Homo sapiens: one gene and its partners. The protein of the gene in region 2 purifies or fractionates together with the protein of the main gene of each other region. This does not show direct contact. Each region holds a gene or a part of one and is shown on either strand. Other genes may lie near its edges. The genes, in order: PREP, CTH and ATIC.

Region 1 (3,655 bases), on a different chromosome or scaffold from region 2:
ATATATTTGATATAAAGTATAATAATACCTTTTGATTGTTACAGTAACAAATTACCACAAATTTTAGCAGCTTGAAACATCACAGACTTCTTATCTCACAGTTCTGTAAGCCAGCAGTCTGGGTTGGCTCAGCTGGGTTCTCTGCTCTGGGTCTTCCAAGGTCAAAGAAGGTCAAAGTCAAGGTGTTGGCTGGTTGGACTCTTACGGGGAAACTCTGGAAAAAACCTACTTGCAGTCTCGGGATGTTGGCAGAATTTAGTTTTGTGCGGCTGTGGGACTTAGGTCCTGTTTCCTTGATGGCTATTGGTTGGGGGTTGCTCTCAGGTTCTAGAGGTCCCCCTTCCTCCATTGTCAAAACCAGCAATGGCAGGCTGAATCCTTTACAAGCTTCCAATTTCTCTGACCTCCCTTTCTGCTGCATCCCTGACTCCAGCCAGAGAATGTGCTCAGCCTTTAAGGGTTTATGTGATTTGGGACCCCTCAAGAGATAATCCAAAGAGCAGCAGATGAATATCCTGCTCCCTGACAGCAAGCAGTATCTAGGTAAGTGTTTGAATAACCAGGGTAGGAATCTTGGGAGGCCATCTGTAGAATTCTGCCCTACCACATTTTTTGTAGTTTGTTGCTTTTGTTCAAGACCATATTAAATCAAGAAAGACAAGTAGGTAGTCCCATCTCCTCTCCAGCAGATTATATGCAAATGCAAGACCCTGACAGTGACAAAGCTCAAGCACTAATCCTGCTGTGACTGTGTTCAACTTTATATCAAACCACTAACAACATATATATGTCAATAAAACCTTACTTGACAAGCCATTCAAAGTGTTGTTTGCTGTCCGAGCACCCATAATCAGTGGTCCAAGCATGGCCGATGGTATATTTATGAAACTTCAGCATGTCCATTACTCCAACTTGGGCAATAACACAACCAAAGAGGTCAGGTCTCTGATTTGCACAAGCAGCTAAAAGCCCAACGTAGAAAGAAAAGGGAGGCAGTCTATCATTAAACATCTACATAAACAAGGCAAGGCAATACTTACTTACATGCTTCCAGAGCCCTGGTTGCATTTATCCAGAGCACAAGAGGAAACCATCAGAAATCACCTGCCCAATAGCCCCAAAGCTCCCCACCCACTCTGAGATCTGTCAGAGGGGGTGGGGATTCTCATCAGTAATGGAGCTTTACTCCCCAAAGTGAATCTTGAAAAGCTTGAGGACTTTCTGGAAACCCTGTATCCCCTCCTCCCATCCCCACTTGCTTTCACAGTGATGAGGGAGATTAAGGGACTTGTTCAAGATCTCAGGACCTGCCCAAGGCAAAATAAATAGGGTCTCTTCGTATGTCATTTATCAGATACCCAAATACAAATGGTACAAATGGGTTTTGCTCTCCTTATACCACTTTGTGGTCCTATCCACAAAGTTAAGTCAAGAGCTGCCTACAGATGGTGTATCTGAAAACCCCAAGAGGGCTAACTAGTAAGTGCAATGAATAAAATCCAGTACTCACCCACTAAGAGGCCTCCATTTGAACCTCCATTAATAGTCAGCCTCTTGGGAGATGTGTAACCTTCCTTGATCAGATACTCAGCAGCACACTGAAAGTCATCAAAGCAGTTTTGTTTGTTGGCCAAGATACCACCTACAGTGTGCCAAAGTGGAAGATAGTTAATTAACAAAACATAAAAATAAGTTTAATCTAATGGGAATTCAAATGATAGAGCACGGTTTCAAATACTGATTAACTTAAAAACCATGGGTTAACACTGCATTTAAAAAAAAGCCTCAATTTAAGTTCTGTTATGCACTGTGGAAATATATCATCAATACCACAATGCTAATCCATATGGTGGATCTGTATTTTTCTAAAAGCCTCTAGAACTTAAACGGGAAATGCCCCAAAGGGAACAGATGGTCGGTTATGAGAGATGTATGATAATGAAAGGATAGAAGCATGGCATCACAAGGAACCTGTATTTTGGGAAGCTGAACTTACAAATATAAAGCAAGACCTGCAGCAGTGTTTAGTCCTCTAGGTTGCACCCAGCACCCGAGCCGGAGCTGGCTGTGGGAGTGCTCGTGTCTCCCCTCCCCGCGAAGACGGAGGTGGAAGCGCTCTGCAGAGGCACGCTTCCCACCCCACCTCTGCAGGAGTCTGACATGGTCGGTGATGGGGAGAAAGAAATTCCCCAGTCTTGCCCTCGGTTATTAATGGAAAGAACAAAAGGAATTGGGTGGTGAGGTAGCGTTGCGGCAGAGCATCACATTATGTTTTCTCAATTCCAGAATGAAAGATCTTCAACGTTTCCCCAGAGAATCTGGGCTTTATCATCTGCAAATCGTTCCAGTGTATTAAACCAAACAAATTACTTGGAGAAACATTTACAGGGCCATGAAATATCTATAAGTAAAGGCCAAAAGTCAAAAGCATGTCCTCAAAGGAACAGATGTCTGAAATAACGGCCTTTGAAATGAACAAAGAGCAGACACAGATCTAATTAGATACTTGAGATTAACCACTTCTGCTGAAATTTAATTAAAGATAAAGCAGTCCTACTGAAATGTTTTTCATATCAAAACAAATGTTATTAAGATTTCAGTAAGAAATTACCAGTGAATTTAGAACAGCTAGGATTACTTAGTTACTAGGAATAACAATATTTTGGGTATATGACTACATTTTAAAAAGAGCATTAAATTTTAAAGTCAATTAACAGAATGGAATTTAGATTTACCAGTGTATCATATCCTAGGCTATAACTGGAAAAGGTCTATTTCTGGTCCTTTCATCATGGCCTAAATTTTGAGGAAGTTTATAAATCAGTCTAAACATAGTCTACTGTTAGCCTTAGTCAATCTTGAACCTGCCTAATCCCAAGACTGGAAAATAACTTGGTTCTAACTAATAAAAAATGAGAGAGCAGACTAGGACCAAATTACTCTTCCCTCTCAGAGCATGGTGGACATCTGATGACCAGAGGGGTTTTCTGGAGAATAATCCAGTTATTTCAGGAGAGGATCCCAGGATCAGGGGACCATGAGTAGGGGGTATGGTGCATAAACTACATACAATTTAAATAGGAAATCAGGTGAGTCAAGGGGTTCAGAATTAGCATACATATTTGGGATCAAACATATGGTATACAGAAATTTTATCCTCTTATCACTCATCTTTTAATATCAGTTTCACAGTATGATTTTAGTGTAAACTCTAATATCAGCTCAAAATTATGCAATGAATTCTTTGCAGTTTCAAAGACAGTCACAATCAGTAGTTTCTGGGGATGATAACTGGCAACGATGGACCAGATGGCCGGCCAGGGGCACTCACTTTCACTAAGGTGCACTTGAGGAGTCTGCTGTCAGCCCCTGGGGTGCATGCTGGATGCCCGGGGGTCATTTCTAAGCCTTTCCTGCATATGGTACCTAACAGGTACTTAATGGAAATCTCTTTACAACAGGTTTACCCTCATGTTCGCTGATTTGATTTGATGCAAAAAAAATCCAGAGCCTCAGGCCTCTGGTTTGGGATGGCATGGGAAACAGAAGAGAGGTACAGATATCTTAAGGGTGGTCTCTGATGCTGAGGAGACCCCTCTCACCTGGAGCTGCTGACCAGCCCCAAGCACTGGGGTCCTGGTAGGCCTTATGATAA
Region 2 (3,655 bases):
CTCAAATATGAAGATAAGTAGTCCTTTCTATGATTTTAATAAAATCATAAATTGTTCATAGCCTAACCTTGTATTTCTTTGAAAAATTATTTTAACATACAGAGAAAAACAGCAGTTCAAGTCCTATTATTACTGAATATTCTACTAATATTCTATTTAGCCTTTGTGCAAAGCGGTCAATGATTTCACATGCCTCCAGGATATATACTTCATTTCTACTTTTTATAAACCAAAGGACACTTATCAAGCAATAAGTTTCAGTTTCCCTTGTGGAGGACATTTTTATTCCTAATCATGTTTATATTTTACCTGTCAAGTTACAATGGCTTAATCTTTAACTATACTGGAGATAAACTAAGCAATGTAAATAGGAAATGGTGTTTAGACATCTATTGAAAAATGTAAGTTTATACTGTAAGTGCTATTTAAAATTAACCATCATTCGTGATATAAAAGGTATAGTATATGAAAGCCCTCATTTCAAATGTAATTTTAAAAAAGAAAAAAAAACCATTAAGTCTTGAAACTAAAAATTCACTAGGGCTTTATCAAATTATGATTATAATTAAGATGGACATGAAAATAAAAAAACTCATTTCTTATATCATATCATAAAGCCTTGCTATGCTATAACCGTTTTTGTTTTTTGTTTTTTGAGACAGGATCTCACTCTGTTGCCCAGGCTGGATTGCAGTGGCACGATGTCAGCTCACTGCAACCTTCGCCTCCCAGGCTCAGGTAATCCTCCTGCCTCAGCCTCTGAGTATCTGGGACCACAGGCACATGCCACTGCACCTGGCTAATTGGTTTGTATTTTTGGTAAAGACAGGGTTTTGCCATGTTGCTCAGGCCGATCTCAAACTCCTAAGCTCAAGTGATCCACCTGCCTCAGCCTCCCAATGTGCTGGGATTACAGGCATGAGCCACCGTGCCCAGCCTGCAATAACTATTTTTATAACACTTTCCTCTAAAATCAGAAAAAATTTTTTTGGCCAGGCACGGTGGCTCATGCCTGTAATCCCAACACTTTGGGAGGCCAAGGCAGGTGGATCACCTGAGGTCAGGAGTTTGAGACCAGCCTGGTCAACACGGTGAAACCCCGTCTCTACTAAAAATATAAAAAATTAGCTGGGCATGGTGGTGGGCACCTGTAATCCCAGCTACTCAGGAGGCTGAGGCAGGAGAATCGCTTGAACCCAGGAGGTGGAGGTTGCAGTGAGCTGAGATCACGCCACTTCACTCCCGCCTGGGCAACAGAGTGAAACTCCATCTCAAAAAAAAAAATTAATAAATAAAAAAAATCAGAATTTTTCTCCTCTATTTTTCATTTCTTCATAAATTATTAGAATGCCATCACTTCACATCACTTAGTGGAAATACAAATATCAAATGTAGTCACTGAGAGTGTCATAGGGAACCTGCACTTTTTAATACTTACAGTTTTGCAAGAAACGAAGTCTATTATGAAGGCTTTCACAATTAACAGACACCAGGCCCATTACAACATCACTGTGGCCTAAAAACAAAAAACAAACAAACAAACAAAAATTTCAGTTAGAAACAATTTATGTTTACTCTTTATTTTATAATTTTCAAAATGTGATTTTCACTTGAAAAAACTCTCAGGGAAAAAGCTCTATAAAATAAGTTTAAGTAACCTTTATTCAACTGGACAGTAGCAAAAGCTATGTCTAAAACAAGAAAATAAAAATTATATAAAAACAAAATGTTTCTTTAAGGTGTCAGCAAGATAAAAGCATAACTTTTTATGGCCAACTTTAATCCTCTTCTCATAAATCATGAGCATAGTTTTGTGTACTGTTAATGAAATCCTACATTTAATCAAAGGATTTTTTTTTTTACTCTCTCTATGAGTCACAGGAAATAATCTACAAAATAATCAAAGAAAAGGGATCAAAAGCCAAGCCCTATGCAATTTTCACCTATCCATGAAAAAGAACATTCAAAGTATGCATCTTACCATTCATGTATTTTGTTGCAGAATACATAGAAATATCAGCTCCCAGAGCCAAAGGGCGCTGAAAGAACAAGTTTTTTACTTTAAATGAGAAACAATTTGAAAATATGCTTCATTACCTGCCTATTTGCAATTATAAATTCCATTCTTATTCTAATCAATACTAACTTTGCAAAAGTATGTGCATCTTAAAATTTTCCAGGATCTCTGATATTATTTCTCCTTTGCCTCCCTCCCACCAAAGAAAAATGTAAAGTATTGAATCCAGTATTGAATCTGAAGGCAAAAGTTTCTTGGAAAGCGCAGATAAGCCCAGGTCAACTGGTCTCTTGAACCTGTTTCTTTATAGCAATTGCTGACAGGACTCTAAATTTATTACCTACAGTAGAGACTCTAGTATTTTATGACTCATTAAACACATAAAATAGTTGAAATGAACATTCAGCAATTTTTATGTAGAGTAAGTATAAACTCATCTGCTTAGATTTTTAATCATTAAAACCTCATGACGTATGCTGTGATTATTTACATTTGGGGTTTGTCATGATCTTGATTCCTAATTACTCAGCCCTTCCTATGTGTGGGTTTCACATCCATGGATTCAACCAACCATGGGTAAAAAAATACTTGGAAAAATAGATGAACAGTTGTGTCTGTATTGAACATGTACAGACTTTTTTCTTGTCATTAGTTCCTAAACAATATAGTGTAACAACCATTTATAAAGCATGTACATTGTATTAGGTATTACAAGAAATCTAGACGGCTGGGAGTTGGAGAATGGCTCACTCCTGTAATCCCAGCAATTTAGGGGGCTGAGGCAGAAGGATCACTTGAGATCAGGAGTTTCAGGCTGCAGTGGACCATGATCAAGCCGCTGCACTTCAGCCTGAGTGACAGAGCAAGACTTTATCTTAAAAAACAACAAGAAAGAAAGAAATTTGCTGGGTGCGGGGGCTCATACCTGTAATCCCAATACTTTGGGAGGCTGAGGTGGGTGGATCACTTGAGGCCATGAGTTTGAGCCCAGCCTGGCCAACATGGTGAAACCCTATCTCTACTAAAAATACAAAAAAATTAGCTGAGCATGGTGGCACGCACCTGTAATCCCAGCTACTCAGGAGGCTGAGGCAGGAGAATCACTTGAACCCAGGAGGCAGAGGTTGCAGTGAGCTTTTCATGACACCACTGCACTCCAGCCTGGGTGACAGAGCAAGATTCTGTCTCAAATAAATAAATAAATAAATAAATAAATATGTCTGAAACTGGGAGAATTAAGAAAAATAAAAATGAAAAGGAATTTTTAAAAGTGTTTTCTTTCACCCAATTTTCCTGTAAATTAATCCTTTAAGTCATGGAGTATAATGTGATGCTCAATACATGTGTAATTGTGTAATGATCAAAAGCAGGGTAATTAGCATGCCCATCATCTCAAATATTTATCATTTCTTTGTAGTAGAAACATTTAAAATCCTCTCTCCTATTTTGATATATACAGTATCTTATTGTAACTATGATCATCCTTTTGTGCAGTAGAACACCAAAACTTATTCCTCTATTCCTCCTTCTAATTGTAACTTTGTACCCATTGACCATCCTCTGTCCTCCCCACCTCCACCCTCCCTTCCCCAGACTCTAGTAACCGCTGTTCTATTCACTACTTCTATGAGATCAACA
Region 3 (3,655 bases), on a different chromosome or scaffold from region 2:
ATAACTACTATTTATACCTCTTCAGTGATATGTGACATATGACTATTAATAATCTACAATTCAATAAAATTGATGGTTTGAGGTCAAAAAAAAAAAAAAGTTAAAATAAATGACCAATGCTGGGTGCACTGGCTCATGCCTGTAATCCCAGCACTTTGTGAGGTTAGGACAGAAGGATTGCTTGAGCTCAGGAGACCAGCCTGGGCAAGATGGCAACATCTCATCTCTACAAAAAATAAGAATTAAAAAATAGCTAGGGGTAGTGGCGCACACCTGCAGTCCCAGCTACTCAGGAGGCTGAAGTGGTAGGACCGCTTGAGGCCAGGAGTCGAAGGCTACAATGAGCTATGATCATGTCACTGTACTCTGGCCTGGGCAACAGAGCAAGACCCTGTCTCTATAAAAAATAAATAAATAAATAAATAAAACTAATGACCACAAAAATAACTATGGTTACTTGAAAGTCTTTTGTTTGCCCCAGTGTATAAATTACAGTTAAAATATCAACTCTCAGAAATTGAGATAAGGATCTGACATGGGTAGCTAAAAGTAGAAACAATTCCGCCAGGTACAAATGTTCTTCCTTCTTTCCTCTATTTCTATGGGTTGAATTCTAAGCAACAAGGACTTAAATGCACAGGTGTGTTTTCTGGTTTTAGTTCCTATAATGAACAGCCCCTAAGCTGTCTGCCCAACAGTCCATCTCTTTCTGAGCACAGCTGCTGGCAACCCTGCCCACAGCTACAAGAGAATAAAAGAGACCACAAATACCTGGGCAGCCGCCTCCTCCTCAACATCAGGAATGAAGCACTCATTCTACATGGACTTACAGAACTTCTTAGAACCTGACACCAGTAGACACAATCTCCCAGGAGTTTGTTACTACAGAGACTGGCAATCTGGGGTCTTCCAGGCCATAGGCTAATTCATATCCACCCACCTCCCTGTCACTTGTGGGCCAAATAATTTAACAAATGCCAAGAGATAAGCTCAGGACACCAGGTGAAGAAAAGGCTAGCAGAGACCTCAGAGATGAACCAGCTCCATCTTGTATTCTGAGGCTCGGGACACTAGGAAAGAAGTGTAATATCTTGCTTAACGTCACACAGTGAGAAATGTTTGGTATTTAATTGTGGCAGCGGTCACATACTGTGAAATTTGTGAAAACTGGTCAAACTGTACTTTAAAAAGGTGAATTCTACTGTATACAAATTATGCCTCAATGAACCTAACTTTTTAAAGATGAAGTTAACTCCTAGTCTAGCAGTCTTTCTACTCAGCAGATTCTTGATAAGACAACATAAGAAATAATGTGAAAATACCCTGCAGGCTGCAAAAATATAGGCTGGTGGGTGGCAGTACCGTAACTTACCTCCTCTTCCCTGGAAATAATACCAATGGGGGAAAAGGAAAGGAAATAATCCAGTTTTGTAACAGCTATTAGAGTCTCACTAATCCAAAATGTGCCAACCTATTCAAGGCAAGAAGCAGCACAACTACTTTGAGTACCTGGTTCCAAAGATATTTTCTGATCATCATTAGTTTTAACAGCCCACCAGGGTACTGAGGAAACACTGACAAACACAAAAGACAAACATTTGGCAAATATTCCCTTTCAAGCTGTCCAATATCTAAGGCAGACGGATGTTTAAATATCATTTCGTAAAACAACAGTCCCCCGAAGGCGAGTCCAACAGCCCACTTACCTGCCCGTTCTTGGCGTAGCACACAGAGTTAGACTGAGTGTACTTGACAGCAATGGTGGCTACGATGAGGTCTCGGAGGGCAGACTCTGGCAACTGAAACACATACACAATGGTAAATTGCATGGGGCCTTTTAAACTCATTTAACTTTAAGCTTCTTTTTTTAAATATTATTTTTTGTGGTTTTTTTGAGTCAGAGTCTCACTCTGTCTCCCAGGCACAATGGGACAATCTCCAACGGCACAATCTCGGCTCACTGTAACCTCCACCTCCCGGGTGCAAGAGATTCTCACACTTCAATTACAGGCGCATGCACCACCATGCCTGGCTAATTTTTGTATTTTTAGTAGAGATGGGGTTTCACCATGTTGGCCAGGCTGGTCTCGAACTCCTGAGCTCAAGTCATCTACGTGCCTCAGCCTCCCAGAGTGCCAGGATTACAACAGGTGTGAGCCACCACACCTGGCCAACTTTAAGTTTCTTAGTTCTATTTAATGTAAAAGACCTACAACATAGTTATACCACTCAAATGACAGAGGGAAATTAACTGTTCTCCTACACACTACCATGATTTACTTAAATATTTAACACATTTGGGGTGGAACTTAGCACAATGCATCCATAGACACAAACTCATGTTATTTTGTAGCAATTGTGGATTAAGCCTTTTTATATCACATGAGGTAAGAACTACCATATCCATTCCAAAACTGACAAACAATATTTTCTTGACCAGAGTACTTTTAAATATCTGGAGACATGGTAAAATTTACGTTCAGAACCAATGCGGAGAATTGTTTCATAGACATCACAAATCGTTATGATGCACACAGACAGCCAAGACTTTGGAAAAATCAAATTACGATCATTTTCTCTTTTGTTTAGAATAACTTAAGTTGAAACTGTTCAAAAACCATTAGGAATTACCAGTCCAAATAGAACAACAAGAATAACGCCCAAAAATATCACTATCTTTAGTATCAGGCATGAATACAAATGGAAAAGAAGGATGATAGTCCACGTCTGTATGCTAAATGGACAGAGGATATTTGCTACAGCCAACAGATAAGTTGATAAATTTGACTTCAGTAAAATTAAGAACTTTTCCTCTGTAAAAGATTCCTCATTAAAGAGGATGAAAAGACAAGCTACGAACTAGGAGAAAATTATTAACAAACCTCATATCCAACAACAAACTAGCACCTAAAACATAAAAAAACTTTAAAAACTCTGTAACAGGACAGGCGCAGTGGCACATGCCTGTAATCCTAGCACTTTGGGAGGCCAAGGCGGGTGGACCACCTGAGGTCAGAAGTTCCAGGCCAGCCTGACCAACATGGTGAACCCCATCTCTACTAAAAATATAAAAATTTGCCAGGTGTGGTGGCGCATTCCTGTAATCCCAGCTACTTGGGAAGCTGAGACAGGAGAACCACTTGAACCCGGGTGGTGGAGGCTGCAGTGAGACAAGATCATGCCACTGCACTCCAGTCTAGGTGACAGAGCGAGACTTCATCTCAAAACAAAACAAAAAAACTCAGTAACAATCAAAAATTTAATTAGAAAATGGGCAAAAGACAGACATTTTCACCAAAAAGGATACACATGTAGCAAATAAGTACACAAAAAAATGTTCAACATCATGAGCTATTATGCAAATTAAAATCAGTGAGAGATTGCTACACAACTATCCCATGTCTTTAAAAAAAAAAAAAAAGTAGCAATACCAAAAGCTAGTAAGGATGCAGAGACATTGGATCACTCATCCATTGCTGGTGGGAATACAAAATGGTACAAGCCACTCTGGAAAACAATTCAGCAGTTTCTTAGTAAACTAAACATGCAACTACCATACCACAAAGCAGTTAACAACCCTGGGCATTTATCAAAGAGAAATAAAAACTTACGTTTAGGCTGGGCACAGTGGCTCATGCCTGTAATCCCAGGCGGG

The links.
Region 1: the proteins of CTH (region 2) and PREP fractionate together in Homo sapiens (co-fractionation; one large-scale study listed by BioGRID). This does not show direct contact.
Region 3: the proteins of CTH (region 2) and ATIC fractionate together in Homo sapiens (co-fractionation; one large-scale study listed by BioGRID). This does not show direct contact.

The regions. Positions count from the first base shown.
Region 1 is NC_000006.12:105,280,941-105,284,595, forward strand, and holds part of PREP (prolyl endopeptidase), read right to left. Parts: intron 1,643-3,655; coding exon 1,511-1,642; intron 963-1,510; coding exon 806-962; exon of another isoform or gene 1-805. UniProt on the Homo sapiens protein: Cleaves peptide bonds on the C-terminal side of prolyl residues within peptides that are up to approximately 30 amino acids long.
Region 2 is NC_000001.11:70,428,178-70,431,832, reverse strand, and holds part of CTH (cystathionine gamma-lyase), read right to left. Parts: intron 2,040-3,655; coding exon 1,982-2,039; intron 1,517-1,981; coding exon 1,439-1,516; intron 1-1,438. UniProt on the Homo sapiens protein: Catalyzes the last step in the trans-sulfuration pathway from L-methionine to L-cysteine in a pyridoxal-5'-phosphate (PLP)-dependent manner, which consists on cleaving the L,L-cystathionine molecule into L-cysteine, ammonia and 2-oxobutanoate.
Region 3 is NC_000002.12:215,342,923-215,346,577, reverse strand, and holds part of ATIC (bifunctional purine biosynthesis protein ATIC), read right to left. Parts: intron 1,800-3,655; coding exon 1,707-1,799; intron 1-1,706. UniProt on the Homo sapiens protein: Bifunctional enzyme that catalyzes the last two steps of purine biosynthesis.